Homo sapiens: one gene and its partners. The protein of the gene in region 2 purifies or fractionates together with the protein of the main gene of each other region. This does not show direct contact. Each region holds a gene or a part of one and is shown on either strand. Other genes may lie near its edges. The genes, in order: SULT1A3, TTC1 and SPSB1.

Evidence for each region.
Region 1: the proteins of TTC1 (region 2) and SULT1A3 purify together in Homo sapiens (affinity purification with mass spectrometry, with the first as the bait; 2 studies listed by BioGRID). This does not show direct contact.
Region 3: the proteins of TTC1 (region 2) and SPSB1 purify together in Homo sapiens (co-immunoprecipitation; 2 studies listed by BioGRID and IntAct, with this or other methods). This does not show direct contact.

The regions. Positions count from the first base shown.
Region 1 is NC_000016.10:30,198,794-30,207,026, reverse strand, and holds SULT1A3 (sulfotransferase 1A3), read right to left. Parts: upstream 7,773-8,233; 5' UTR 7,700-7,772; intron 6,303-7,699; 5' UTR 6,299-6,302; coding exon 6,151-6,298; intron 6,047-6,150; coding exon 5,921-6,046; intron 5,832-5,920; coding exon 5,734-5,831; intron 4,338-5,733; coding exon 4,211-4,337; intron 4,116-4,210; coding exon 4,021-4,115; intron 3,523-4,020; coding exon 3,342-3,522; intron 3,220-3,341; coding exon 3,107-3,219; 3' UTR 2,717-3,106; downstream 1-2,716. UniProt on the Homo sapiens protein: Sulfotransferase that utilizes 3'-phospho-5'-adenylyl sulfate (PAPS) as sulfonate donor to catalyze the sulfate conjugation of phenolic monoamines (neurotransmitters such as dopamine, (R)-adrenaline/epinephrine, (R)-noradrenaline/norepinephrine and serotonin) and phenolic and catechol drugs.
Region 2 is NC_000005.10:160,010,473-160,023,149, reverse strand, and holds part of TTC1 (tetratricopeptide repeat protein 1), read right to left. Parts: intron 12,651-12,677; 5' UTR 12,622-12,650; coding exon 12,292-12,621; intron 8,492-12,291; exon of another isoform or gene 4,119-8,491; intron 1-4,118.
Region 3 is NC_000001.11:9,360,217-9,370,032, reverse strand, and holds the end of SPSB1 (SPRY domain-containing SOCS box protein 1), read right to left. Parts: intron 2,586-9,816; coding exon 2,458-2,585; 3' UTR 501-2,457; downstream 1-500. UniProt on the Homo sapiens protein: Substrate recognition component of a SCF-like ECS (Elongin BC-CUL2/5-SOCS-box protein) E3 ubiquitin-protein ligase complex which mediates the ubiquitination and subsequent proteasomal degradation of target proteins.

The DNA of each region.
Region 1 (8,233 bases), on a different chromosome or scaffold from region 2:
GGAAGGGGTTTAATGAGATGCATAAAATTTGTAGTATGGCAGAAAATAATAAGGGTTCAGGAAAGGGGGGCGGGCAGGGAAGTGCACAAGAAAGAGCCGCAATTTTATTGTATTTTATTTTTTTAGAGACAGGGTCTTGCTGTTTCCCCCAGGCTGGAGTGCAATGGAGTGATCATAGCTCACTTCAGCCTCCAACTCCTGGGCTCAAGCGATCCTCCCACCTCAGCCTCCCCCGTAGCTGGGACTACAGGCATATGCCACCATGCCCGGCTTCTCAGAGCTGCAATTTTAAATTGGGAGCCAGGGAAGACCTCCCTGTGGAGGTGGCAGGTTATCAAGACTGAAGATGTAGAGAAGAACCTTCCAGTCAAAGGGAAAAGGCAGGTCCTGCTGTGCTCAGGAATGGCCAGAAGTACTATCATCCATCCCCATCTTAGAGATGTGGACAGGGCCGCAACAGTGTCAGGGCGTTTCCTGGCTCCTCAACAGCAGGATCCGAAGTCGTCTGGAGGATGTGCCGCTCTGCTTGGGGCGGACCTCCCCTGGAGCGCACCTCCCCTGGAGCGCGCGGACGCGCAGGGTGCACACAGCCCTCTTGGACCCCGGGACCGGCTCAGGCTCAGGCTCGGCGTCAGCAAAGGGACCTGCGCGGCGCCCTGGGGCGGAGGAGGCCCGACGGTCAGTGGCCAGTGCCGTGCGGCTGACGGAGGTCGGGGCGCAACGGGACCGGGAGGAGCGCCCAGGGCGGGGGTGCCAGGCCCCCTCCAACCGCGGCGGGGTTGGAGTCAAGGCGGCTCCGGGCGGGGGTCGGACCCCAAATCCAGGCCACAGGCCGCCGCCCGGTCTTCTTCTTTACCCGAAGGGCGGCCGCGGCGGATGGGAAGCCGTGCACGACGAGCACAATCTCCATGGGGAGGAGAACAGGAATGTTCCTGTGAGCCCCGCCGCGCCCTACCGCCAGCGCAGCCCAGCATCGCGGGTCCCCTCCTATCCCACCGGAGAACGGGGTCCTCACTCCCAGCTTCAGCCGAGCCCTGGCCCCGCAACTGCCTGAAGGCACGCCCCCTGCACCTGCCCACCTCAGGTCCCGCCTCCAGCCCAGGTACCCACCTGTTCTCATTCCTCTCCCTCCTGCGCTCCACCCGACCCCAGCGTGCCCCCCAAGACCCCTGCGCTGGACCCCAGCCTGGATCATCACCCTCGCCTCAGCCAGCTGCTCTCCGGAGTTCTAACGCCGAGATTCCCAGGGCACCGCCTCCCCGTTAGGCTCCTCCCCTGCGACAGCCTCCCCCCACCAACAGGCCTCGCCCGGGACGTCCCGCGCACGTCACAGACCTAGTGGGTCCCTCTCAGCAGGCTTGTGCCCCCCGGTTCCGCCTCCTCCAGGGAGCCTTCCTCCGGGCACAGAGACCCTCCCCCTCTTAACAGGGACCTCGGCCAATGGTCCGCCAAGCCCCGCCTTTTTTGCGGCCACCATTGTGCTGCTGGACGAACAGGGTTGACAGTGAGCCCCACGTAGACAGGGCCCGGGTACCAGGGATTCAGGCAGTAGAGCAGCTGGACGCTGAAGAGGCACCCGGCCTCGCCCCGATTCCCGCGGGACCCTTCGAATTTTAGGAACTTTTCACTAACGAAACACACTTCTGTGTCAGCACCGACATCAAGAAGAGAACCTCACCAGCACCTCAGAACCCGCTTTGTCCCTCCCTGGTTCCTTCCCCTGGGTGCCTGGTGTGCTGCCGTCTCACCCATATGTAGTTGAGCGCAGCAGCCCCTGTAGGACACCTGGCAGATCAGGTCACAGTCCTGCTGTGCCCTCGGGCTCACTCGGGAGCTGGGGGCTCCCAGGTGCTCCTCCAGCAGCTCAGTTCAGCATGCTGGGGGGTCAGGGCCAGCCCCTGTCCCTGGGGCCTCAGGCCTCCCTTTCTTCCCACAGTGGCCAAGATCGCGGGTCTCTACAATGACTTGGAGCCACCCCGGAAGACCATGCGCAGAGGGGTGCTGATGACCCTGCTGCAGCAGTCGGCCATGACCCTGCCCCTGTGGATTGGGAAGCCTGGTGACAAGTGAGGGCAGCAGCTGCGAGGAAGGGGCTGGTGCCCAGGGGCTGGGACTGATCCTTTGTTCCACTCACAGGCCCCCACCCCTCTGTGGGGCCATCCCTGCCTCAGGAGACTACGTGGCCAGACCTGGAGACAAGGTGGCTGCCCGGGTGAAGGCCGTGGATGGGGATGAGCAGTGGATCCTGGCCGAGGTGGTCAGTTACAGCCATGCCACCAACAAGTGAGTGACACCAGCCCCGGGGCTGCTCTCTGCCCTTCCTGTCCACCTGCCCCACAGCCCCAGGAGGACTATTCTATCCTGTTTGAAGACACCTCCTATGCAGACGGCTACTCCCCTCATCTCAGTGTGGCCCAGAGGTACCTGGTAGCTTCTAAGGAGCCCAAGAAAAAGTGACGCTGCCCGGCGGACTCGACGTCCTCCACCATCTTGGGGCAGGACAGCAGAGGATGTGCTGGGATTAAACAGACATCCCCCCTCCACACATCTCCTGGGTTTTACTTCTCCAAACCCTTCTCCCCTCCCCAGATATGGTGACCTGGGGAGCTGAAGGCTGGGGGAGAGGTGACCATATGTGGCCCCACCGGGCATTCACTCTTTCAGCTCAGAGTTTCTCTTCCTTTCCAATACAGGCTCTACATGAACACAAATCATATTTTATTTTAATTGAGCTTTATTTTCTTTGGAGGGAGGGTCTTGCTTGTCATCCAGGCTGTAGTGAATGGGCATGTCATAACTCACTGTATCCACAACCTCCTGGGCTGAAATGATCCTCCAGCCTCTGCTTCCCAAGTAGCTGGGACTACAGGTAAGTGCCAGCACATGTGGCTAATTTTTTTACATCTTTGTAGAGATGAGGTCTCACTATTTTACCAGGCTGGTCTCAAATTCGTGGCCTATTGTGATCCTACCAGCTCAACCTCCCAAATCGCTGGGATTGCAGACATGAGCCACTGTGCCTGACTCAAAAATCATACTTTATTCTTGAGCCCATTGGTCAGGGTAGATTCGCACACTCCCTCTGCAGTGACTCCAGGAGCCCCTCTCACAGCTCAGAGCGGAAGCTGAGGCTGCAGCCTGCCATCTTCTCCGCATAGTCCGCATCGAAGCGCTCATTCTGCGCCACGGTGAAGGTGGTCTTCCAGTCCCCAGCCATGCCTGGGGGAGGAAGGCAGGGAGCAAAGCTGGAGTCTCATCCCAGGGGAGGCCCCAAGTGCCTATGGGGAGGCTGCAGCTGCTGCTCCCACCCGCCCCAAACCCCCGTGCTGGCCAGCACCCACCTTTCCTCATGAAGGGGGAGATGCTGTGGTCCATGAGCTCCTGGGGGACGGTGGTGTAGTTGGTCATAGGGTTCTTCTTCATCTCCTTGAACGACGTGTGCTGAACCATGAAGTCCATGGTCTCCTCTGGCAGGGAGCGCCCCACAAACTCCAGGATCTTTTGAATCTCCCTTTTGGGGTTCTGAGCAGCAGAGGGCTCCTCAGTGGAGCAAAACAAAACGGGTCCCCCTCTCTAACCTCAGAGGGGATCTGGCCACTTCCCCTAGAAACCCCAAAGAGCCTCAACCCCTGGGGCCCTAGTCTCTGGAGTAAAATGAATTGATCTCTGCCCTGTGATCCCATCATGAACAGGGCTTGGCGCCTATGGGTGAGGACCGGGATGGTCTTCTTCCATGACTGTGGCCCTGGGTGGCACACCCTTTGGTGAGGATAAGCAATAGGACTAAGTATCTGATCCGTGGCCACCCATGCAGCTGACTCAGGTGCAGAAGATGAAAGCTGTGCCGAGCCTGCTGCCAGGTGGGGCTGCAGTGGGGGGGCCTGGGCCAGGGAGGTAGGATGGGGAATCCGGGCTTGCTGTGGGAGCCGCCCAGGGACGGGGCTGGGTGGCCTTGGTGGGTCCCTGTGAGGTGCCTGCCCCCAGGTGTCACATGGGGGGAAGCATCACAGTCGGTCTCACCTCCTTCATGTCTTCATAGAAGAGGTAGAGAACAGGGTGGGTGCGGCTCAGCTCCCACCACTCCTGCACGTGCTGGTACCAGGACCCGTAGGACACTAGAGAAGCGGGCAGGGGGCACCGACACAGGGTTGCTGTACGTTATAGCCACCACCCCTCGGCTTCACACCCTCCTTCCTCCAGTCAAGCCCACCTTCTCCAGCCATGAACTTTTCCAGGAAGCTGTCCCAGGTCCCAGGCTCAGGGTGCGCCTTTTCCATACGGTGGAAATGGTAGTAGGAGACCGCCACGTCCTTTGGGTTTCGGGCAACATAGACCACCTGCAGGGGCAGAGGACCCAGCCCCAGCACCATCACCACACAGCCCACCCCAGGCCAGCTCATCTGTTGAACTGGCAAAGGAGGAACCTGAGGCTTAGAGGCTGACTTGCTTGAGATCTCACTGCACAGGTAGGGCCAAGCTGGGATCTGAACCCTGCTCGGAAGCCAAAGTCCTGCCTGGTTCCTGAGACCATATTCTATACTAATATAATCTGCACCAATGCCATCATATCCTGATCTGGAGCAAGGCATGCCTGGTCCCCACCAGCTCCCCCTCCTCCGCTGACCTGTGAGCACCCACATGCTGCCTTTCTTAAGTGTGCACTGTAGAGACTCACTATCCTTGCATCAGACCCTCATCAGAGCAAGAGGCAGACAGTGTCCTCTCTCAAGATGTGATGAAGGCTGGGCGTGGTGGCTCATGCCTCTAATCCCGGCACTTTGGGAGGCCAAGGTGGCCAGATCACCTGAGGTCAGGAGTTCAAGACCAGCCTGACCAACATGGTGAAACCCCATCTCTACTAAAAATACAAAATTAGCCGGGCGTGGTGGCAGGTACCTGTAATCCCAGCTCCTTGGGAGGCTGAAGCAGGAGAATTGCTTGAACCCAGGAGGCGGTGGTTGCAGTGAACCGAGATCACACGATTGCGCTCTAGCCTCGGCAACAAGAGTGAAACTGTCTCAAAAAAAAAAAGGGCCAGGCGCGGTGGCTCACGCCTGTAATTCCAGCACTTTGTGAGGTCGAGGCAGGAGGATCACAAGGTCAAGAGTTTGAGATCCACTTGACCAACATGGTGAAACCCCGTCTCTACTAAAAAGAATACAAAAATTAGCCGGGTGTGGTAGCACACGCCTGTAATCCCAGCTACTCAGGAGGCTGAGGCAGGAGAATCACTTGAACTGGGGAGGCGGAGGTTGCAGTGAGCTGAGATCATGCCACTGCACTCCAGCCAGGGTGACAGAGCAAGACTCTGTCTCAAAAAAAAAAAAAGATGTGATGAGCCTGGCAGAAGCGAGGAGGCCCTTCCAGAAGAACAGGTACATGGCTGAGAGGGCACCTGAGCCCCCCTTCCTGGCTTTCCTTGCCAGTCAGTGGGAACTTTTTTTTTCGTAGAGATGGTTTTGCTGTGTTGCCCAGGCTGGAGTGCAGCAGCAGGATCATCAGGGCTCATTGCAGCTTCCTATTTGCATAAACAGTCCTCCCCGCTGAGCCTCCTAAGTAACTGGGAACAGTCTATGCCACCATACCAGGTTGTTAATTTTATTTTTGTAGAGATGGGATGTCATCTCTACAGCAATGTTGCCCAGGCTGGTCTCCATCTCTCGCCTTCAAGGGATCCTCCCTCCTCAGTCTCAAACTGGGATGACAGGTGTGAACCATTGAGCCCGGCCTCACCTTGACCTTCTGATCCAACAGAGTCTGAGGGAGCAGAGCCAGGGGCAGGTGTGACTTGATGAGCCGTGGGGGCGGTGTGTCTTTCAGAGTCTCCAGCCCTGAGTAGTGGGTCAGGGAAGGTCTGGTGAGCTGAAGCCCCAGCCCTGTCTTCCTCCACTTCCCTTACCCCCAGGACCCAGCCATGCACCTGAGGGTTCCCCTGGATCATTGACCTCAAGGAAGGGCACCCGTACGTAGATGGGAGCCCGGTTACACTTCTCTAGGTCGCCGCCCTGGTAGATCATGTCCAGTATCTGGCTCACCCAGGTGGTGCCTGGAGAGGGAGGGAGATAGGAGGTGAGCAGGCTGAGGGCACGACCTTGCTGACCAAGGTGGGGACTGCCGCCTGGGAGAGGGTGGGTGGCCCTCCTCACTTACCAGACTTGGGGTAGGTGTTGATGAGCAGGTCATCAGGTCGGGCTTGGAAGCTCTGCAGGGGCCCCAGTGCCTCTGCAAAGTACTTGATGAGCGGGACCCCCTTCACGTACTCCAGTGGCGGGCGGGAGGTGTCCTGGATCAGCTCCATGTTCCTGCATCAGGGGCCAGAGCCAGGCCCGTTCCCTTACCACCATCACAACAGCAAGAAAGTGGGATTCTCTCTTTTTTTTTTTTTTTTTTGAGATGGAGTCTCACTCTCACCCAAGCTGGAGTGCAGTGTGGCACAATCTCAGCTCACTGCAAACTCCACCTCTTGGGTTCAAGCAATCCTCCCGCCTCGGCATCCCAAGTAGCTGGGATTACAAGCATGTACAACCATGCTCAGCTAATTTTTTTTTTTCTTTAGTAGAGATGGGGTTTCACCATGTTGGCCAGGCTGGTCTAGAACTCCTGGCCTCAAGTGATTTGTCTACCTCAGCCTCCCAAAGTGCTGGGATTACAGGTGTGAGCCAGCACCCAGCTGCCCCTTTGCAGAGTTTTTGCTTTCAGGGAAGTCACTGAGGCCTAGGGAGGCTGAGTGACTTGCCCGCACTCACAAAGTCAGTCAGTGGCGGGGCTGGGGCTGAAACCAGGTCGTTCCCCAGCCTGGCCGCACCTTTCAGTCACCTGCAGAGCTGTTCAAAATCCCAGGGCCTGGGGCATAGTGCAGACCAGTGAAAGCACCCTCGTAGCGCGGGGCCCAGATATCAGGGTGTGTGAAGGTCTCCAGGAGAGTCCAGCTGTGCTGAGGAAGCTCTAGGGCCTGCCTGTGCTGTCTCCCTGCCAGCCAGCGCCCTTTGTCTCACCATTTCCTGCTGGGACCCCCAGCCTCCACCCAGTGCGCTCCTCTCCCCGATGCTCCCCTCCTTGAGCCCCCCTCATGCCCCTCACATGTGGAAACCTCCCAGGCCGGCCAGGTCTGTGATCCACTTGCCTGGCCACAGTCCATCTGGGCTCCAGAACAAACACAGCCCATTGAGCAACTAAGCTGGTACCAGGGGCTAGAGCCTCGTGCGGGAATGAAAACTGATGACTCATCAAAAGGAGGGGCCCAGGCAGGGTGACTCCCGCCTGTAATCCCAGAGCCTTGGGAGGCCAACGGGAAAGGATCCCTTGAGCCCTGGAGTTTGAGACCAACCTGGACAACAAAGCAAGACCTCTCCTCTACAAAAAATATTTTTCAAAATTAGCTGGGTGTGGTGGCTTGCTCTTGTAACCCCAGCTACTCAGGAGGCTGAGGCGGCAGGATTGCCTCAGCCTAGGAATTTGAGGCTGCAGTGGGCCAGGATCCCACTACACTCCAGCCTGGGTGACGGAGCAACACCCTGTCTCAAAAATACACAAAGGAAAAGAAGGAACGCAGGGGGATTCCGGCCAGGCTGGGTTGTCTAATTGAAATGGAATATCCATGGGAAAGGGCAGGGATGGCAGAGGCCTCGGCTTCTAGAATGTTGGAGCCACAAGCTGAGCAGGGTGAAGGTGCCCTGGGCCATTCCAACGTGTCACTCACCTGAGCTCTCGGGAACCTGACCTGTTCTCTCCTTGCCTGCAGGGGCTGAGTATGGGTGTGGTGTAGGGAGTGTAGGGCTGCTCTCTGCCCTGAGGGTTTTGAAGGTCCAGTGTGGGAGGGATCTAAAGTCAGGGCTGGGAACTCCAGGAAGGAAGGGGTGGGGTTGAGGGTGGGGAAGCTTCTCTATTACCCTCCTTACCACCACAGCTCCAGCCAAGCTTGGAGTGATCTGCAAACCCAATATGTGAGTTTAGTGTATAGAAAACACATGAATGAAAGGCAAAAGGGGCCAACATTGGTATTTGGGTTTTTTTTTTTTTGAGCTGTCACTAGGCTCCTGACCTTCCCTCTGAACTCCACCCTGCAGGGCAGGCCAACAGACAAGCTTTCTTTCTTTCTTTTTCTTTTTTTTATATGAGATGGAGACTCGCTCTCTCGCCCAGGCTGCAATGCAGTAGCACGATCTCCGCTCACTGTAACCTCCCCCTCCTGGGTTCAAGCGATTCTTCTGCCTCAGCCTCCCGAGTAGCTGGG
Region 2 (12,677 bases):
TGAGTAGCTGGGATTATAGGCGCACACCACCAGGCCCTGCTATTTTTTTTGTATTTTTAGTAGAGATGGGGTTTCACCTTGTTGGTCAGGCTGGTCTTAAACTTGACCTCAGGTGATCCGCCCACCTCGGCCTCCCAAAGTGTTGGGATTACAGGCGTGAGCCACTGCACCCGGCCAATTTTGTCTATTAATTGCAGGTACTAACAAATGTCTGCTGAATGAATAACTCAATTTCTAGAATTACCCCGAATCTGTAGCATATGTGGGTTAATTTTCATTTAACTAACAAAGAAATAAAGGTGGAAACTATTACAAGTGTCCTTTCTGAATAAAATTAGCAAATCAAGGATTTAAATATTATAAACTTCTTTACATAAAGAAGATATTCTATAAAGAAGACAAATTACTGTAAATACTAGTTAGGATGAAAAATGGAAATGGTATGCTACTATTGCTAAGTGAAGAGTCTTCCTGTAAAGCAAATATCCATGACTTGGCTATAATCTTACCTTGTAATTTCCTATTTACTAACATAGTACCCCTATCTGCTTAATTACCTATACTATATTAGATGCCTGATTCCATGGCTGTGTAACTCATTCAATGAGCTAAAACTCATAATACTTATTATGTGCCAAACATTGTGCTAAGAGCTTCAAATGGATTGATTCACTTTCTTAAAATATTAGAAGTAGCTTGAATATAATTTTTTAATTGACAACAAAAAAACCACCCTCCAAAAAACCCAAAAATCCAAGCTAGAGAACTTCAACTGATATAATTTAAAATCCTGGGTAGCATGGCAAAATGTTAGAAAGTGCTTCTCTAGTCCCTTATAAATAAACCACTCTTCAGCAGACTACAATGCAGTGGCTGAGTAGGGTATTTCTTTTACTTTAGGTCAGTGAATACAACATAAACACACTTGACTTTGAGCTTATAAGTGTATACCCCATCTATCATTATTAAATAGTTAAAAACTTGCATGAAATACATTTAAAAAATAATCTCATATTTAAATAATCCTATGGTAAGCATGTGCTCAACAGACAAACAGGGGGAAAACCAAGACTCTCACTCCGGCAAGCTTATGTCCATATTATAAATCTATCAGCAGCTCTCTGCTGCCCTCTGCAGTTTTGTGAAGTAATTGCTACAAAATAAAACGGCATACACTTTATGCCAAGCACAGTACCCAGGGATCACAGTACCCAGAGATCAATAGCTGGAGTAAAAGAGAGCGTAAAGAGAGGTACATACTTGCTCAACTGCTGGAAAGTGGAGGCACATGCAACAAAACTTTCTGCTTTAGTCTTATCTAGGTGGGACAAGAAAACTACACTTGGAATGCAAATACTGGAAGGGCTAGGGACATCAGTTCTATAATTATTTTGAAGGGAATTCCTTATCATTAAAAAAATAAGCTTTTGGTTTTGTCTTCTTTGAAATCAGATATCACTTGCTTTACATACATAAAGACATATCTGTTCTTTCCACAAGTCACCTTTACAGGTCCTCTAGGGAGGCATGAGGGAGGATCTTTGGATCTAAGCCACAGTTAGAACCTGCCTCTCAGTAGGTGTTATCCTTCTGAGGAAAAAAATGACTGATCTATGAGGAATTAATCTTGGAAATAGTCCCTTGTTTCTTAAATCAGAAAATTCTATTTCCCAAAACTCAATCTTTAACAGAAATAAATTTTCTATGTCAGGACTGCTTAAATTCGGCCCAACAAGTTGTTTTTAGACCTTGATCAACGGATGTAGGTAAAAGAAAACCTCCTATTCAGTTCTTCCGATGTTGGATGCAGTCAATGTACGGGTTAGGTCAATACTTCTTGTTTTGGAAGCTTAGTCATCTGTGTCCATCTGGATCTGTTTCCCATGGTGTGGCCACAGTTCTTCCTATATCAAAATTACCTGGGAGGCTTGCTAACAAAACAGATGCCTGGTTGTTGCCTCACAGGTGTGTGGTGTCAGACACTTCTCAGGCTGTGCATGGTTAATACATTTCCTGTGATGCTTAGACACAATAAAGTCTGGAAACCACTGATCTACACAAAGTGACCTTTCTTAATAAACACAGGAAATACTGAACGTCATTTTAACTTTTCTGCCAGCAAATAATGTAAACACACCTCACTAACTTCCAAATGTTTTAGAGCAGCGGTCCCTACCCTTTTTGGCACCAGGGACTGCTCTTGTGGGGAACTATTTTTCCACGGACTAGGGTCTTGGGGAAGGGGGTGTTCATAATGATTCAAGCACATTACATTTATTGTGTACTTTATAATTATTAAACTGTAATATATAATCAAATAGTTATACAATTCACCATAATGTAGAATCAGTGGGAGCCCTAAGCTTGTTTTCCTGCAACTAGACGGTCCTACCTGGGGGTGATGAGAGACAGTGATAGACTATCAGGCATTAGATTCTTGTAAGGAGCAGGCAACACAGATCCCTTGCATGTGCAATTCACAACAGGGTTCACAAGCCTACGAGAATCTAATGCTACCATGGATATGACATGAGGTGGAGCTCAGACAGTAATGCAAGCGATGGGAAGTGGCTGTAAATACAGATGAAGCTTCGCTCACTAGCCTGCTGCTCACTTCCTGCTGTGTGGCTGGGTTCCTTACAGGCCACAGACTGGTATCAGTACATGGCCGGGGGTTGACGACCCCTGTTTTAGAGCAAGCAACCCTTATTTCCACTGGTTTAAACTTAGCATCAGGCCAGGCAGGGTGGTTCATTCCTGTAATCCCAGCACTTTGGGAGGCCAAGTGAAAGGGCCTCTACAAAAATAAAAATAAACAAACTTGGGATCAGAAATCTAAGCTCCTTCTAGGATTTGATTTAATCGTTTGTAGACAGCATTAAGTTCAACAGTGGTAACTCTAAGAAGTTGGTAAAACTGACCACCTTAGTTCCAAAGGATGCCTATTAGAAATGAAAGAAAAGGAGGCTGGGGCGGGCGGATCACTTGAGGTCAGGAGTTCGAGACCAGCCTGGCCAACATGGTGAAACTCCGTCTCTACTAAAAATACAAAAATTAGCTGGGTGTGGTGGTGGGCACCTGTAATCCCAGCTACTTGGGAGGCTGAGGCAGGAGAATCACTTGAACCTGGGAGGCAGAGGTTGCAGTGAACCAAGATCATGCCACTGTACTCCAGTCTGGGCGACAGGGCAAGACTCTGTCTCAAAATAAACAAACAGAAAACAACAACAACAAAAAGAAAACAAGAAATGAAAGAAAAGGGAGGCAGGAGGCAGGGCACAGTGGCTCATGCCTATAATCCCAGAACTTTGGGAGGCCGAGGTGGGTGGATCATGATGTGAGTTCGAGACCAGCCTGGCCAATATGGTGAAACCCAGTCTCTAGTAAAAATACAAAAATTAGCTGGGTGTGGTGGCACACGCCTGTAGCCCCAGCTACTCGGGAGGCAGAGAGAGAATCGCTTGAATCCGGGAGGCGGAGGTTGCAGTGAGCAGAGATCGCACCGCTGCACTCCAGCTTGGGCAACAGAGAGGGAATATCCATCTCAAAAAAAAAAAAAAAAAAAAAAAGAATGAAAGAAAAGGGAAACAACAAAATCAGAAAGGTTGCTCATGACGTTAACAGGACTATGCAGGCCACTATGGAAGAAGTTACTGAGAACTTTTTGGAAGCAATCGAGAGTATTCCCTGCAAACACATCCACAGCCACAACATTAATTAGATTATGAAAATGGTGCAATAGGGTGGCAGAAACATGGAAATCCAAAAGATTAAGTAATGTGGAATTTAGGAAAAATGACAGAGGGAAGAGACTGAAATATAACATCTGTTCTAAACTGAAACTTCTAAGCTTTGATAATGGTTCCTAAAGAGAAAATGACCTTAAAGAATAATCCTTAAAACTTTCAGAGCCTAATGTTTTAAAATCCCAGATACCAGGCATTCTGAATCCATGTTCACCAAGCAACAGACTTTTGGATCCCTTATGTGTACATGTAAATGAATACCATTTGCAAACCACTAGTGAAAGGGAGCAAACCCATTGAAATGACTAAATCTGCATTTTGGCTTACAAATAAAAAATGTTTGTTTGCAGGAAAGAATTAAATCACCAGAACCTGGATAAGTTCAAAGTTCCTTCATCTTCTTCATATTAATAAAGGCCACACCATCCATCCAGTAGCTGAAGACAAGGAATCATTCTAACGTCTCACTCCATCCCGCCAATCGAATCCACTGCAATGTGTGGTCTGCTTTACCTCTGAAATATATCCCAAAATCATACACTTCTCTTCAGATCCACAGTTCAAGCTACTATCATCTTCACTGGGCTACTGCATTAGAGCCTAATTGGGCTCAAATGTTCTATTCATGTCCCTCCTCCATCCTCATACCCCTCCATTCTCTGTATAAGAACTGAATTCTCTTATTAAAATGTAAATAACTTCCGTCTCTCCCTGGCTTAAAATTATCCATCTGTTTCCTTCTGCACTTGGAAAAAACTTCAAGTTCTTTACTACGGCTTAGGAACTATTCCATAATCAGACCCTTGCCTACTATCAGCCCACTCTCTTCCTTAATCATCATGCTTCAGCCATCGGCTCTTCCATTCCTTGAACATGCCAAAACACCAAACTTGTTGTTACTTTAGGGCTTTATTCAACTGCTCTCTTTGTCTGCAATGCTTCCCTCTCAGACGGTCACACATTTGGCTGCTCCCAGTGCCACCCTCCCCTAAGTCTCTGTTGAGAGGCCACCTCTCCAGAGAGGCTTTCCTGACCAGCCAATCTAAAGCAGTCCTCTCCACCTGTCTTAGTCAGGTTGCTATAACAAAATAACAGACTCAGTAATTTATAAATAATAGAAATTTATTTTGCACAGCTCTAGGGGCTGGAAATTCCAAGATCAAGGCACCAGCAGATTTCGCGTCTGGTAAGGGGCTTGTTCTTTGCTTCAATATGGTGCCTTCTTTCTGCATCCTCACTTTGTGGAAGGGGAGTAGAAGGGCCCAACAGGTTCCCTCAAGTCTTTTATTGGTATACTTTATAAGGATACTAATTCTTCTAATCACCTTCTAAAGGCTCCACCTCTTAATACTACACATTGAGGATTAAGTTCAACATGAATTTTGGAGGAAAACATTCAAACCATAGCACCATCCTTCCAACCCAACCCATCCTTCATGTTAACATTTTGTCCTAATTCTCCAATGAGAGAACAGAAACCCTGTCTTGTTCACCACTGTATCCCTCAGGGCCTCAAACAATGTCTAGTGGGTGGAAGAAATGTAAATATTACTTGAATAAATGTGAGAAAAAAATTTCTGTAACTTATAAGGCCAATTATTGGCTCTCATGGGGGAGAAAAAGATGCTATTCATTCAACAGCTATTTAATGAAGGAAGATTGTGCAAAACCTGTGACAGTGGTCCTCAAGCCTCAGCATGTGCATATGAATTACCTAGGAAATTTACACATGAGACCTAAGAAACTGCACTGTGACAAGCAGTCCATAAAAGGCGATTTTCTTATGGAATCAATACTAGCATTCTGCAGTATGTGCCATAGGTCCTAATACTATAAACACTTGCTATGGTCTGAATGTGTCCCTCCAAAATTCATGTTGAAATAATCCCCATTGTGTTGGTATTAAGAGGTGCGTCCTTTTGGGATGTGATTAAGTCATAAGGGTTCCAACCTCATGAATGGATTAGTGTCCTAATAAAAGAGGTTGAAGGGAGCTGCCCTGCCCCTGCTGCCATGTAGGGACACAAATGGTGCCATCTGTAAGGAAGAGGCCCTCACCAGACACTAAAATTGCTGGCACCTTGATCTTGGACTTCTCAGCCTCCAGAATTATGAGCAATAAATTTCTATTATTTATAAGTTATCCAGTCTAAGGTATTTTGTTATAGCAGCTCCAACACACTAAGATAGAATTTTTGTATCATAATGTTATTATTGCAATTCTCTTCTGCTGCTACATTTGTCCTTCACCTTAGCCAAGCCTCTCAGAACCAGTTATTTGCTTCACATACCTAGTACATCTCAAATGTTAGCTAAAATTCCATTCCTGTGGGTAGTTATATCTACATTTAAGCTTTCACAAATAGTTAAGATTTACTGCTGAAATAAACACACGAATACACTATACTCTCTGAGAGCTTTTCCTGTTTTTACCAAATCTTAACTGCTTTCCTCCTCAATTATTCTTGATTTATGAGTCCTGCTGAGAAGTGACACTACACTTGAGCGTGAATTATCTTCCCAGCCACAGGACAAGTGAAGTTAGCTTGATTAACAGACTTTGGCTACTATTATTTGGTTGTGTCCAACAAGAAACCTTTAATACTACATAGACCCTGTACGGAATAGCACTTCTTTCCCAAATCATCAGGGGTCAGCTTCATGTGCTTTTGTGGTAGGGCACACAGTTTGGTTGTAAAGTAATCAATTTTTATTTATTTATATTCTTAAAATGGAATAATGTAATACAGGCTTACTGAAAAAAAAAGCAAATATTACAAAATTGCATTACATATAAATTAAAATTCCCTAATAATCATACCTCTCAAAGTTACTTACTGCTTATACTTTGGTGTATATCCTTCAAATTTGTATGTATAAACATATTTTCACATAGCCTTAAAAGAAATCATCACTGTTGTATAACCTGATTAATTAATTTGACATTATATTACAGGCAGCTTCCCAGGTCAATACCTACGATTCATCTTTTTAAAAAAATTTTTTAAATTATTTATTTATTTATTGAGACAGAGTCTCATTCTGTCACCCAGGCTGGAGTGCAGTGGCGTGATCTCGGCTCTCTGCAACCTCCGCCTCCTAGGTTCAAGCAATTCTCGTGCCTCAGCCTTCTAAGTAGCTGGGACTATAGGTGTGCACCGCCATACCTGGCTAATTTTTGTATTTTTAGTAGAGATGGGGTTTCACCATGTTGGCCAGGCTGGTCTTGAATTCCTGGTCTTGAGTGGTCTGCCCACCTTGGCCTCCCAAAGTGCTGGGATTATAGGCATGAGCCACTGCACCCGGCCAAGATTTACCTTTAACAACTGCATTGTATACTACATAAATATAACAACAAAATTTAAGTAATACTCTGGGAAGAACACATTTTTCTCTCCTACTATACCCTCCCAATAGGTCTGACACCAGATGAGAGTGTTTTCCACACTAAACAATTCTCCAATGGACACCAACGGAGTGTCCTATAATTCAATTCAGTTCTGTCACTATCTCCAGGTAGACAGTGTCTGATCCCACAGGTTAAGAGTTTAGTCTCATAAGCCTGGCCCCACTTCAGACACTAATCACAAGTCCCAGGTTGTGACCTATGATTCCGACTGAATGGTTAGCACAGGGTTCTTACCACCCTCTCTGTGGGTTCAATAATTTGCTAGAATGGCTCACAGAACTCTGGGAAACACTTTACTTACACTTAGTAGTTTATTACAAAGGACATTATGAATGATATAGAACAGCCAGGTGAAGAGACACACAGGGAAAGGTAGAGGGAGAAGGGGTGCAGAGCTGCCACGCCCTCTCTGGGTGCTACCCTCTTAACACTTCCATGTGCTCATCAACCTGGAAGCTCATCAGATTTCTAGTTCAAGAGTTTTTATAGGCCAGGCGCAGCAGCTCACACCTGTAATCCTAGCACTGTGGGAAGCTGAGATGGGAATATTGCTTGAGTCCAGGAGTTCGAGACCAGCCTGGGCAACATAGTAAGACTTCATTTCAAACACAAAAAAATTTAGCAAGGTGTGGTGGAAGGCGCCTGTGGTCCCAGCCACTTGGGACATTGATGTAGGAGGATTGCTTGAGCCCAGGAGGTTGAAGCCTCCAGTGAACTATGATCGCACCTCTGCACTCCAGCCTGGGCAACAGAGCGAGACTTGGCTCAAAACACAAGAAGAAAAAAGCTTTAATGGAGCTTAATCTCCAGCACTTGCCCTCCTCCTTTCCTGGATTTTGGTAGGTGGTGCCAAAAGTTCCAACCCTCTAAAACTCTAATCACTTAGTCTTTTTGGTGACTGGCCCCATCCTTCCTTAGGCTATAGATAGGCCAGATCCTAAAAGTTATCTCATTAGGATGAACTCAGGTGTTATCAAAAGGGGTACATTAAGAATAACAAAAAAATACACTACACTATCAGAAAATTCCAAGGGTTCTAGTGGCTCTGTAACAGGAACCAGGGACAAAGACCAAATAAATTTACTATACTACAAATACCCTGTTTAACATTGTCTAGCTTTCCAAAATTATGAATGATGCTGCAACACATCTATGTATATACATTTGTGTATATTTCTAATAATTTCCTTGAAATAAATGGCTACAAGAGAATCAGCGTTAATGCTGTCATGTCCAATATGGTACTTACTAGCCACATGTGACGATTTTAAAATTATTTATTTATTCATTTTGAGACAAGGTCTCACTCTGTTGCACAGGCTGGGGTGCAGTGGCGTGATCATGGCTCACTGCAGCCTTGACTTCCCAGGCTCCAGGGATCCTCCCACCTCAGCCTCCTGAGTGGTGGGGCTACAGGCTTGTGCCACACGTGATTATTTTTATTTTTAAAGGCTTTTTAAAAAATTTTAATTAAAAAAAAATTTTTTTTTTTTTGGAAAGACAGGGTCTCACTATGTTGCCCAGGCTGGTCTCAAACTCCTGGGCTCAAGTGATCCTCCAGCCTCAGCCTCCCAAGTGCTGGGATTATAGGAATGAGCCACTATGCCTGGCCCATGTGACTATTTATTTATTTTCTGAGACGGAGTTTTGCTCTTGTCTCCCAGGCTGGAGTGCAATGGCCCAATCTCGGCTCACTGCAACCTCGACCTCCTGGGTTCAAGCAATTCTCCTGCCTCATCCTCCTGAGTAGTTGCGATTACAGGAGCCCGCCACCAGGCCTGGCTAATTTTTTAATTTTTGGTAGAGATGGGGTTTCACTATGTTGGCCAGGCTGGTCTCGGGTCGAACTCCTGACCTTAGGTGATCTGCCTGCCTCAGCCTCCCAGAGTGCTGGGATTATAGGTGTGAGCCATCCCGTATGACTATTTAAATTAATTACAATAAAATTCAGTTCCTCAGCCGTAATAGCCACATTTCAAGTGCTCAATAGCCTGATGTAGTCAGCAGCTACCATACTGCATGGTGCAGGATGTAGAACATTCCTATCCTTGTAGAAGAGTCTATTGATAGCCCTATCTAAAGAAATGGTCACATAAAAATTTGGTATCTGCATCCCATGAAGTGACATAACAATTTAAATTCTCAATATTAGTATATGAGTTCCAACATCCTCTCCTTGTCAACATCAGATCAATATTCTGATCTGATAGATGAGACATAATGTTTTAGTTAGTATTTTTTTTTTTTTTTTTGAGACAGAGTCTTGCTCTGTCACCCAGGCTGGAGTGCAGAGGCCTGATCTCAGCTCACTATAACCTCCATCTCCCAGGTTCAAGCGATTCTCCTGCCGCAGCCTCCCAAGTAGCTGGGATTACAGGCGCACACCACCACGTCCAGTTAATTTTTGTATTTTTAGTAGAGATGGGGTTCCATCATGTTGGTCAGGCTGGTCTCGAATTCCTGACCTCATGATCCGCCCGCCTCAGCCTCCCAAAGTGCTAGGATTACAGGCATGAGCCACCACGCCCAGCCTGTACTTTTCATCATTATTAATGAGGCTGAGTCTTTTCACATTTTTTGGCCATTTTTTTTTTTTAGTCATTGTTGAACTATCTGAACTTTATTTTAAAAGATTCAAATATAACACTATCCTGTTTCTGATGAGCTATTAAAGCCAAACCATATATGTAGAAGACATTTCTTCAATCTGTTTCGCTGGCTTCTTGAAAATTTTGGAAAGATATTTATCAAAATAGCATACAAACACCTAATAAGAGTAGTACCACAGTTAGCTGAAGGCAATCTGCACTCTTATAGGTTGTTTCCTTAAAGTAGAGTCAGTGGCTTACATTTCTCTAAATAATAAGACTAGCACTGCAGTATGTTACTGTTATGAGATATTCTTACAAATTTTCAAATTAGCTATGAAAACACTTAGACTGATATATAAATGAATAGAAAATATTTATGTTTTAAACATGAATACTACTGTATGATTATGTTTATATGAATGTCTGGAACAGGAAAAAACCACCTATGGGACAGGAATCAGAAGAGTGGTTAACCAGAGACTGGCAGGGTTGGGAAAGGAATGACTGATAAAGCACACAAATGGAGTTTCTGACATGATGGAAATGTTCTCTATCTTGATAGAAACGTGAACTATGCAGGTGTATACAATTGTCAAACTCACTGCATTCTACACATGAGAACTGATATACAGTTTCACTAAATTATATCTCAATTTTTAAAAGGAGGAAAAAAGTGAAAAAAAGTATTGTTCTACTTAGAATATTAAACTTACAGGCAATAAAAATAATTATCCTCACTGGGTGTGGTGGTTCACGCCTGTAATCCCAGCACTTTGGGAGGCCAAAGTGGGAGGACTGCTTGAGCCCAGGAGTTGGAGACCAGCCTTGGCAACATGGTGAGACACTGTCTCTACCAAAAAACCCACAAAAATTAGCCAGGCAGGGTGGTGCAAGCCTGTTGTCCCAGGTGCTCAGGAGGCTGAGGTGGGAGGATCCACTTGAGCCCAGGAGGTTGAAACTGCAGTGAGCCGTGATCACATCACTGCACTCCAGCCTGGATGACACAGTGAGATCCTGTCTTAAAAAAAAAAAAAATCATAAAAGTATTTATAGAACTTAAAGTATGATTTTCTGGCCTAGGAGACACAAAAAAAGTTTTACTAAATTAGAGGTAGGGATCAGACTTTGTGACACCTTGAGCCAAACCATTCAACTGTCAAATCCAGAGGGCACTAGAAAATTAATATAATTTCAGGGCAAAATATATTAAGGTATCAGAAAAGCACTACTAACTTTTTAACATAGATGCATAATCAGTGTTTCTAAAAAGCCTGAAACCTGTTATAATGTTATGGAACAGTAGTTAATTTTTTTGAGCTGTATTTGCTGTGGTAGTTTATGAACTTGGCTCACTTTTGCCCTTTTTCCTCCTGTTCTGGTGGTGCACACTAGCACAAAAACGAACACGTTCACATTAAAGCTAACTGATTTGATAATGAAAAGCGTCTAAGGAGAGAGAAAGAGAAGATGCTCCTACCCACCCCAGGCTACCTTCCCACCCCCACTGTTAGGCTTAGGCTGAACATTTATTATCTCATCTCAATACCAATGTATCACAACCTGTTCAGTGAGTGAGCTCCTTAGTGGCATAAACTACAATCTAGTTCAAGTTCTTTGTAGACAAACTCAAGACATTACAGTAACTCTTCAGAGACTACCTTGCTTGTGCAATCAGAAGGAAGTAGGACAGCAGGACTTCAGTCTCCAAAAGTGAAGGCTTGCCCAGTTAAGGGTGTGGCCCCAGGGCAAAGAAACAGGAGAGTGTACATTTTATTAGTCTATCTGCTTTGTAGGAAGACAGATGTTTTTGTTATTACATTATACATTATACTCTAGCTTTGGAATCCAACAGATTTGATTTGAGAATTAGTTTTGCAATTCATTAGGTGTTTGATCTTGGGCTAGTTACTTCATCCCTCTAAGCTGTTTCCTTATGGGAAATAACAGTATGTATCTCATAGGCATGTTGTGATGATTAATGAAAACACAAGTAACATTTTAAGTCAGTGGATGGCACATTGTAGGCATTCAACAAAGGATAGCTAGCTATAATCATACACAATTCTGTTTCTCAAGACCTCTGCAACCAAAACCCCACCAAGATATTCAGGCAGTCATATTTTGCTAACAAGGGATTAGCATAAACAGGAAATGTTCATAAACATAAATGTAGCATAAACATAAAAATGTTCATTACAGAAATCTCAGCAGCCAACCGTAGAAAAGTTCATAACAGAAAACTAAAAAGTATATATACATTTTGAAAATAAACAAAAAGACTGTTACATTACAGACTCCTGAAGTACAAGATGAACATAACTGAAGGTTCACAGAAAATAATGAAAATTTCTTTGTTAAGCAGACACACTCAAGTGCTTCCCTGTCACGCCACCGATTTATCTCAGATCCAACACTACTAAAGCCATAAGAAGACAAAGGGGCAAGTTATTCTTTACCACAGATGAGGTGGTCTATGATACAGTATCGACCACATTTTAAAATGCAGTGTAAGTGGCAGATCTTGCACAATAAATAAAATACTTACCTGTTTCTCTTCATCCGACATGTTTTTTTCCAGTTCTATTAGGTATTCTTCATCTAGTTCAGAGGAATTCACATCTTCATTAGATTTGTTCTCAACCTTGTCCGCTCCTGGCTCCTCCTCAAATGAGGCACTGCAGTCATGAAAACACTCCTCTTCTCCCTGGTCCTCCTGGAGATGGGCCTCATCATCCCTGAGCAGCTTACTCTGGGAATGCTGATTTTTGGGATCAGGAACTGGAGGGCCAGCACACTCGGCTTCCTGAGTATCTGTAACCTTCAAACCATTTAACAGATCCTCTGGAACCCCACAGTTCTCTGACTTCTCCCCCATGCTGCCCAGTGAGGGAGGTGACGCTAAAGCTGGGGGAAAACAAAACAAAACTGCTA
Region 3 (9,816 bases), on a different chromosome or scaffold from region 2:
ACATGGCTAGCAGAACAAGTTCACTCTGCAACAGTTCAGCAAACATCACCGTGCACTCAGCCCCAGGGGACACAAAGACGAATGAAGGACCTGCTCCTTCCCCTAGAGCCTGGACTCTGAGGACGCCCACAATGGCTCACACTCTGCTCCTAAAAAGCCCACGGTCAACTCAAGTTCTACAACCCCACAAACCAACCTGATGCGCTCACGAAGGCACAGAATCACTGTCTGTTAGACTTGGCAAGTTTCTGCAGCTTGGGCTGCCAGGCTGAGGAACTTCTGAAATGGGGATGAGGCTGTTCTGGGGTCCTCCCTCCAGGACTCTCCTTCTCCTTCTCTGTCTGGGGCTTTGCCTGGCATCCCACCCTCTGCCAAGGGGTGGTAGGGAGTCAGCCCATCATCTGCTGAAAACTGTGGGCCGTGGAGCTGGCTGGACCCAGGAGGGGTCAGCTATGTCTCTTTCCCCTCCCCCGAGGCACAAACGAGGAATTCAAAAATGGTTTGATATTTTAACAAACGTTCCTTTATTAGGTTACTGACTATTATCAACCATCATAAAATAGAACGGGAGTTTCAAAACTGTACAAGCCACAAGGCTCTGGGCTGGTAGGAAAGAAGGGTGGGGTCGAGGGTCCCAGGGTGTCGGGGGGTGGGAGATGCAGAGAGAGCTAGAGGGTCACCCGGCATCTGTGAGGACGGCTGGGTCAAGGCCATAAGCTGGGATCTGTACAAGGGAAACATTCATCAGAATGTGACCCACCTGAAACAGGAGGGAGGAAAATCTTTAAAAGTCTTACAGGTAAGGTCCCCTGCCCCGAAAAAAAAAACCGTCAAAATAATAAGGGGGTAATGTACATTTCTCACCCAGTCTTGGCACCAATTTTGTGCTTTAAAAAATATACTCCACTGTAAGATTTACTTAAAAAAAGGTACTCTACAGCAGCTGTTTAAAACATAATTCTTACAGACAAATATATATATATGTATGTATATATATTAAACATTTTAAACAAATAAAGTCATCTATTGTACCTGTGCAGAAATGAACCAAAGTTAGACTCTAAGAGAGTTAACTTCAAGCTCAAAGAAATGGCAAAGGCGGTGGCAGGTGCTGGGGTACGCTACGTGGAGGGGTTGCCAGGGATAGGGCACCCCTCTCTTCCGGCAGCCGAGCTACCCCTCTTGAGGCTCTGAGAGGGGTTGGGATGAACTGGGGCTGTTACCCTGGGTCCAGAGCCCCGGCTGGGGTGCTGAGCAGAGACCCGCGCTGGCTTCTGTGAGGCTCGACTCTGCTCCTGGTCTTCCCCATCCCACCCTGCCCCCGGCTTCTCGGGGAATGGAGACCCACTCGCCCTCCCTTCTTAGTTCTGGGGGTCCTCTGGCACACCCAGAGCTTCTGAGGATGCACTTGGGAAATCTCAGCTAGAAAAGCAAAAGCAAAATCAAACCCACATCAAAAGACCCACAGAAGACTAAAGAAATGCAACCCTGTGCAAGGGTGCCTGAGCCCAAGAGTTAGCTGGTTACCTGGAGACACAGGGGAATTGCTGCAGCCCTTCCAGACGGGCCCCCGAAGACACCCAGATTGCACGTGAGGCTATTTCTCCCTGAGGGGCCCGCTAGGGAACTTGGAGCAGAGCCCCCTGGAAACTGCAGGGCAAGGGACCCAGAGACATACTTGTGCCTGGGCACGTGTGCACATGTGCCCAGGGAGGGCGGGCGAGGCATACATATCCCAGGGAGGGCACAGGTGGAAGGAAAGTAACAGAACAGCCAGAGAGAGGGGACTGAAACAGGGTTTCCTTTCTAGATGGAATAAATAAATGGCTTTTGTTATTGTTAAAAGAATAAATACAGGGTACGGGGCACCGGCAGCCAGGATGGGTGCTGGGTGCTTATTTGCCTGCAGACAGTTCTTGGTTTCTGCCTTGGGGTCCATGGTGAGTTTTTGACGTCCTGAGCTTTATCTGCCATGGCATGGCCCCGCTGGGCACCCTGGGCCGGGCACCAGCCCTTGTCTAAGCACCTCTTAGTACCCCTGGTATCTGCTCTCAGAGCTGTGGTACCACCTGCCACCCCCACCACCCTGGGACCCCCAGGTGGCTGCAGCCTTCTCCCAGAGGTGTGGGAAGCACCCGTCCCACCCCGAGCAGATTGGAGCTCAATGTAGGGCTTTCGTAGGAGTTTATTCTCTGTGTCTTTTTTCAAAGAGGGGTTGTATACGGACGGCATGCAGGGATGCTGCCTTCTGCTGATGTCGGGAAGGGGGAAAGAGGAGCCTGTGTTGGAATCGGTCCTTGTCCCATGGAGGCAGCCACGGAGGATGAGGGAAGACCAGGGACCTCTGTCCATGGCTACGGATGCCGGTCCAAGGTGCAGGGTGCGGCGGCCCCAGCGGCAGGCGGCTCAGTGAGTTGGCACCAGGTGGCTGTCGCGCTGGCGGTATGATGGCGAACGTCACTGGTAGAGGAGGTAGGCCTTGAGGGAAGCCGGCAGCGGCAGCGTGTGGATCTCCCCCAGGCGCTCCCTCCCCAGGGCCAGGCGCACCGAGCGACGGCACAAATCCATGAGCGGCAGCGGCTCGGCTGGGGAGACAGAGAAACTGCAGGTCAGCGCAGCTTGGGTGGGTGTTCAGCAAACAGCGCTAACCACAGCAGCAATATTATCACTGATTAGTATTCACTCAAATCAGTAAAGAAACAATGAAAAATGCAATGCTTTTTCATTTTAAATTTAGCATGTGAATAGCTGCCACCAGGAGCCCACCCTGGGCTGGGCACCTGGGCGAGCCCTCTGCTAACACTCATTTAATCCTCACAGTGGTTTCTTATGAATGACTTAATAGTCACAGAGACACCATTACCTTCATCCCCATTTTACAGATGAGGAAACTGAGGGACAGAGTCTAAATGACTTGCCAGGGGTCGCCCTGCTGGCAGGAGATGCAGCTAGGATTCGAACCCAGGCGATCCCTGCTCTTCCCCACTGGTGACTCTGCCTGTCCAGGCAAGCAGCTGCCATTGGGGCCTGTCGGTCGGAACACATGGGAGCCAGCTCTTCCTGGCACGCACCCCCAGCACTAGCTTCAGGAAGGGAATCATTTTCTGTTACCAGCTGCTCTCAGATACCATTCTCACCTCTGTTTTAAAGCTGAAGACTAGCTGGGCATGGTGGTTCACGCTGGTAATCCCAGCATTTTGGGAGGCCAAGGTGGGTGGATCATTTGAGGCCAGGAGTTCAAGACCAGCCTGGCCAACATGGTGAAACCCCGTCTCTACTAAAAATACAAAAATTAGTTGGGCGTGGTGGTGTGTGCCTGTAATCCCAGCTACTCAGGAGTCTGAGGCAGGAGAATCGCTTGAACCTGGGAGATGGAGGTTGCAGTGGGCTGAGATCACGCCACTGCACTCTAGCTGGGCGACAGAGCAAGACTCGGTCCAAAAAAAAAAAAAAAAGAACTGAGGACACACAGGCACAGAGGGGACACCCAGTGTGCCAAGGTTCAGGGCTGGGATCTGAATCCAGGCAGCCTGGGCCCAGCGTCCATGCCCTTAGCCACTAACCATGCTGCAAAGGAAGACATGGCAAACCCTGTCCTGAATCATACGTGACAGGCCTGGCTGGCCCCACGGCCTGAAGGTGTCATTTCTGTGCCACATGGAGACAGAGAAACCCCGGGTGTCTGTGCTTCTGTCTGACAGTGAGGCTGAGGGCCCAGGCCAAGCTCAGGCCCCAGGAAACTGGAAATGCCAGCCCAGTTTCAGCTGATCCCCCAGAGCTGCCTGGGCCTTCTCCCCGCAACTGCCCCAGGCACATGGGGCTCTCTCACAGCCAGGGGAACTTGGGCAGAGCTGCCTCAGGCCCCAGGGTTACAGAGCGCTTCCAGCTGCAGCCTCCCAGGCACCTCCATCCTGTGTTCCCAGAGCGCCCAGCCTTGCCTTCCTACAAAGGAGGCTGAGTTCATTCAGCTGCATCTCAGATGAGCCGTCAGCTTCAGATCTCAGGAGTCTGAAACTCATGCCTTCCAAGGCTTCTGAGCGTTGGAAGGCTGCGCGGCCCTGCTCGCCCGCTTCGCCAGAGCAGACCCCTCTTTGCTCTCTTTCCTGAAACCAGGTAGGAGTGAGCACACCTGGACCTTCGTGGGGCCGCCCACGCTGTTCTGCAGATGGAAAGCCCTGAAACTAATGGATCTGAGGCTTCATCCACGGTCTCCCCTTGACTTTGAGACTCCTTTGTGAGCAAAATAGCCCCCAAAACTAAAAGGAACCCGCAAAACTCCATCCTACCAGTAAAAAGTGGATTAAAGTTCTTTAATATTCACCAATGTGTCTCAAATATACGAAAATCAATTACTGAAGACCAAACACTACGGGTGGGGCATGGCAGAATGGAGAGAGGCTGCTTATGGGTATAGGGTTTCTTTTTGGGGTGATGAAAATGTTCTAAAATTGTTTCCTACATCTCACCACGCAAGAGGCCACTGAATTGGATACTTTAATGGGTGAATTGTAAGGTATGTGAATTATAGCTCAGTAAAGCTGTTACAAAATAGAAGAATGGACCTTAGGCTTGATAATGCATTTACTAAACCCCAAGCTTTAAAAGAAGAGGGACCAGGTCAGGCACAGTGGCTCATACCTGTAATCCCAGCACTTTGGGAGGCCAAGGACAGAAGACTGCTTGAGCCCAGGAGTTTGAGACCAGCCTGAGCAACATAGGGAGACCTCATCGCTACAAAAAATAAAAATCAGCCAGGACTTGGGAGACTGAGGCGAGAGGATCGGTTGGGCCCAGGAGGTCAAGGCTGCAGTAAGCTGTGATTGTGCCACTGTATTCCAGCCTGCGTAACAGAGACCTTGTCTCAAAAATGAAAACAGGCCAGGTGTGGTGGCTCACGCCTGTAATCCCAGCACTTCGGGAGGCCGAGGCCGGCGCATTACCTGAGGGCAGGAGTTCAAGACCAGCCTGGCCAACATGGTGAACCCTCATCTCTACTAAAATTAGTATACAAAAATGAGCCAGGCATGGTGGCATGGGCCTGTAGTCCCGGCTACTCGGGAGGCTAAGGCAGGAGAATCACTTGAACCTGGGAGGTGGAGGTTGCAGTGACCCGAGATCACACCATCGCACTCCAGCCTGGGGTGACGGAGCAAGACTCTGTCTCAGAAAAACCAACAACAACAACGACAACAACAACAACAAAACAACAACAAAAAAACCCCAAAACTGAAAAAATAAATAAACAAAAGAAGAGGGACCACTGCTCTTCATCCCCCATGGACGGTCACAGCCACAGCTCCTGACAAGGAACTGAAATGTTCTGTATTTTTAATGGAGAATTTTGAAAGGGGGCCTTTCGTGGCCAGCTTAGGATGATTAAGAGGAGCTCTGATTGGAGACGAATGGAGGAATGAAATAACCTTGGGTTCTTTAAGGTCAAGGATCCCACAGACCCCTCGTGATGGGGTGGGACTGGGTTCCACCCACCCGGCTCCTCACAGGGTTGGGTTTCCCTCGGGTAAAACACCCAGCCTGGTGACTCCAGACCCTGCCCCGCAGCCTGACCTGGAGCACATCCCTCCGTCTGCCCGGACTTGTTTCCCCATCTGTAAGACACGGAATCCAGACCAGATTCTCCCCAAAGTCCCATGCAGCCAAGATCCTGAAGGCCAGAAGTGCTTATCGCAGCCTGTGGTCTGGCCTGGCTGTCGGGAGTAGGTCTTCTGCACAGAGGAGTGGGGAATTTGCAGGTGTGTTCTCTTCTCTGCTTGGGAGCGCGCCTGCATCTGGCCTGCATCAGGGCCAAGGGGTCTGGGCTGCCCTGAGCTCCCTCCCGGGAGAATGTGGCTCAGCCCCCGCCGGAAAGTGGAGGGGCTCTCCCTCGTGGCTGGAAAGCACCTGAGAAAGCTCCAAGAGCCACTGAATGTGGCCCAAGAGCCCTGCCAGGCTGCAGCAGTGAGGGCTGAGAGGGAGTTCAGTCACTACCCTCTTGGTGTAACGGGTTTCCAATCAACCCATGAAGAAATGTTTCTAGGCTGGACGCGGTGGCTTATGCCTGTAATCCCAGCACTTTGGGAGGCCGAGGTGGGTGATCACCTGAGGTCAGGAGTTTGAGACCAGCCTGGCCAGTGTGGCAAAACCTCATCTCTATTAAAAATACAAAAATTAGCTGGGTGTGGTCGTGCATGCCTGTAGTCCCAGCTACTTGGGAGTTTGAGGCAGGAGGATTGCTTGAACCTGGGAGGCAGAGGTTTGCAGTGAGCTGAGATTGCGCCACTGCACTACAGCCTGGGTGACAGAATGAGACTCCATCTCCAAAAAAAAAAAAATTTTCTAAAACTGCAGAGGCCCACATGAGCCCCCAGCTCCATCCAGTGCCTTATTTTGAGTGGCTGACACCGCAGCCCCAGCCCCAGCCATGGCCTGTGGGGCACCAGTCGTGTGCCTGATGGGGACTGTGACCCCAACCTACAGATAGGGAAATGGGCTTGGGGAGGTGAGAGTTACAGGTCCAAGGTCTGAGAGCCATGGACTCCAAAGGGATGAGGCCCTCCAGCTGCCACAATCCATCCCCTGTGAACGCAGCTGTGTGGGGTAGAGGACTTGCCACAGCCTGGCCATCTCTGGATCTCACTGAATAAACCAGTTAGGGATGGGTCATGGGATCCACCAAGACGGGCTAGAGAAGTGGCAGTGAATGGCTGCAGTGATGTGTTATGAGCTGAAAATAGGACCAGAGTCACCCAGGCATCCTGTGAATGGGTCTCTTCTCTGGGTCCTCAAGTACATAAACAGGTCACGCCTCCTTGATCTTGCAGGAGGAAACTGATGGCGCATAGGGCCCGGTCTAACTGCTTTCCAAAGGCTGGGCAGAGACCAAGAATGCATGGCCACAGAAACAGACGTGGGCTTCGTGCCGTGAAAAAATGCCCAGCCCCCATTTCAGCTGGTCACTACCAGTACCAGGGAGTTCTCCCCAACCTCCACACTCTTGACTGGGGGCTGCCAGCTTTGCACCCAGCTCCAGCCACAAACCCAGGTGCCTGCTGAAATCTACCGAGGGGGTGGGCACCTGCACTGTGGCCTGGGGCCTCTGGCTGCTATGCCCATCCCCAGGAAGCTTAGGCGCTCATTCATTTAAATAATTTCTGTGAATGAGAGTGCAATGCTGAATGAGCAGCAAAGAAATCAGGAAGTCAATCAGGCGCTATTTCTGGGAGCAGAAGCCTGAGGAACTGGAAGAGACAGTGCACCAGCTTCCACATTTCTGTGAGAAACGGCTACCTGGTGGCCCACGTGAACATGCACAGCCCCAGAGCCCCAACCCACAACTGTCTCACTGTTCCCCGAGAGATTTCAACCCAACTCAAGCCTCAAGAGTGTGGTGCTGTGCCCAGTTCACGGGCTGAGTGAACGAGCTGCAGAACGGTGAGGTCAAGGAAAAATGTTCCGCATCAGAGAATGCCCCGGCTTCCGCAATGTCCTCGCTGACAGCTGTCATGGCTCCTGTGGCTGGCCCTGCAAGCAGCTTGTGGGGACCACGCTCCAGGACATGGATTCTAGAATGTCACGGGTCGGGTGGCCATCATAGGATGTGTGTGTGTTTTCCTCTACACTACGCAGTTCTTACGAAAGAGCACAGCCAAACACAACGTGGAGCCTTTGTCCTTGTCAACTGGGGAAGGACGCCTGAGATCCACCTAGGTGATCAGACACCCTTGGTCCCCTATCCCCCCCAAACTCTGAGAGCCTGCGGTCCTCATATGACCAGAACTTCTGGAGGGTGTGGGGAATAGGGTCTGGGACAACCCCTCCCCGACATGGAAGGAAGGAAGGAAGGGAGGGAGGGAGGGTGGGTGGCCCTGGTGGCGGTGTATCAGTCTCCCGATGAGTAGCTCCCGGCAGAGTCCAGCTGGAGTGGAGTGCAGGAAGGAGGCACCCGGGAGGAGGCTCTGATCTTGAGGAGACGAGCTGACCTTCCCTGAACCTTCAACCACGACAAACCACACCAAACCCATCTGGGAGCCGTTAAAGAAAATTCGAAAATGCTGAACTGCATGGAAGATGCCTCCTCAGTGGGAGATGTCTTTAAAGCAGTGGGGGTAGAGCCAGAGGACCCACAAGGTCAGGGGCTCCCCCTGGACAGCCTGCCAGCCTGCTGCTTGCAAACAGGCCTTTCCACATCTCCAGGGAGGGTGGCGGGCAGGCCCGGGGTCAGGCCAGGCCCTGTGTCTCCCCACTCAGCAATGGCCATCTCCACTCCTGCCCTCCAGGAGAGAGAGGGAGAGTGACACAGCAGCCTCTCTGGCTGCATCCTCAGCACAAGGCCTTGTGCCTCGAGCCTTGAGGAGGAATCAGAGCACGGGGCCTGTGGCCCCAGCAGGCTGGACAGTGGGGAGGCCGCACAGGGAAACGTCGAGAACTCAGTACCCCTACTTCCGCCCGGCCACGGCCCCAGTGTAGAAGCCGGGACTCTGCTGCGGGGGGGTTCTGCCTGGCATGCAGGAAAGAGGCCACAGGGGACAGTGGGCTGGGAGACCCCCGGGAAGGCACACACGCAGGCAAACTGCTGGAGCTGCCCTACAAACAGCTGCCCCTCGTGGAAGTCGAATCCAGGGGTGGTGGGGACACTGATGATTCTCCAGATATCCCAGGGAGTGGAACTACCTCCACCTCCAAGACAGAGACAGCAAAGCCCCAGATCAGGTCTGCCACCAAGAAAACAGATCCGGCTGGGCATGGTGGCTCACGCCTGTAATCCTAGCACTTTGGAAGACCGAGGCAGGAGGACCACTTAGGAGCCCAGGAGTTTGAGACCAGCCTAGGCAACATAGTGAGACCCCATCTCTAAAAAAAAAAAAAAAAAAAAAAAAAAAGAAAATGACAGATCCAGCCATGCCTGGCCAGAGCCTCCATCTGTCATGCTCTGCTCCCGGGCAGACCCTGGGATTCGATCTCACCAGGACACCCCCCTTCTTTAGTTGTATTGGAAGGCAAAGCCAACTCTCCCGGGACGGGGGACTTGGGTGGGCTCTGACCTCACTATGGGCACCCCAGCATCGGTAGGGGTGACGTGAGAGGATGGAGCTCCGGGCTCATCTTTCACCCCCCACAGGTGGCAGCACAGGGAGAGGAAGGCCTCATGGAGATGGTCTACACTGGCTGCCTCCACATCTGAAGCGGGTTGACCAGTGTCCTCCAATTCATGTTTGCCCAGAACTTCAGAGTGGAGCCTTATCTGGAAACAGGGCCTTGCGGATGTACTTCATTATGACGAGGGCATAGTGGATTGGGGTGGGCCCTGAATCCAATGGCTGGTGTCCCTCTAAGAAGAGGAGGGGCCACGGAGAGACACATACACAGGTGGAGCACCCTGGGGAAACAGAGGCTGGGACTCAGGGAGGCATCTACAGACCAAGGGACGCCAAGGATTCCCGGCAGCCCCCAGGGGCGAGGGGAGGCATGGGGCGGGCTCCCCCTCAGAGCTCGGAGGCAGTCGAGCCCGCTACCATCCTGATCGCAGACACCTGGCCTCCTGAGCGCTTCTGCTGTTTTCAGCTGTCCTGCTTGTGGTAATGTGTTCAGCAGCTCCAGGAGACGAATACCCTGTCTGTCTTCCTCCAGCCACTCCATCAGGCTCCTCCCGTGCCCCCTGACCCAAGTGACTCTCCTCAAGGTCAACTGCCAATTCCTTGTTGCCAAAGCTGATGGACGGTTCTCAGCCGTCCATGTACTTGACCTGCTGCTACTTTGCCCTTCTGAAAGCCCCTTCCTCACTTGGCATCCAGGACACCAAAATCTACTGGGTCCCTTCAG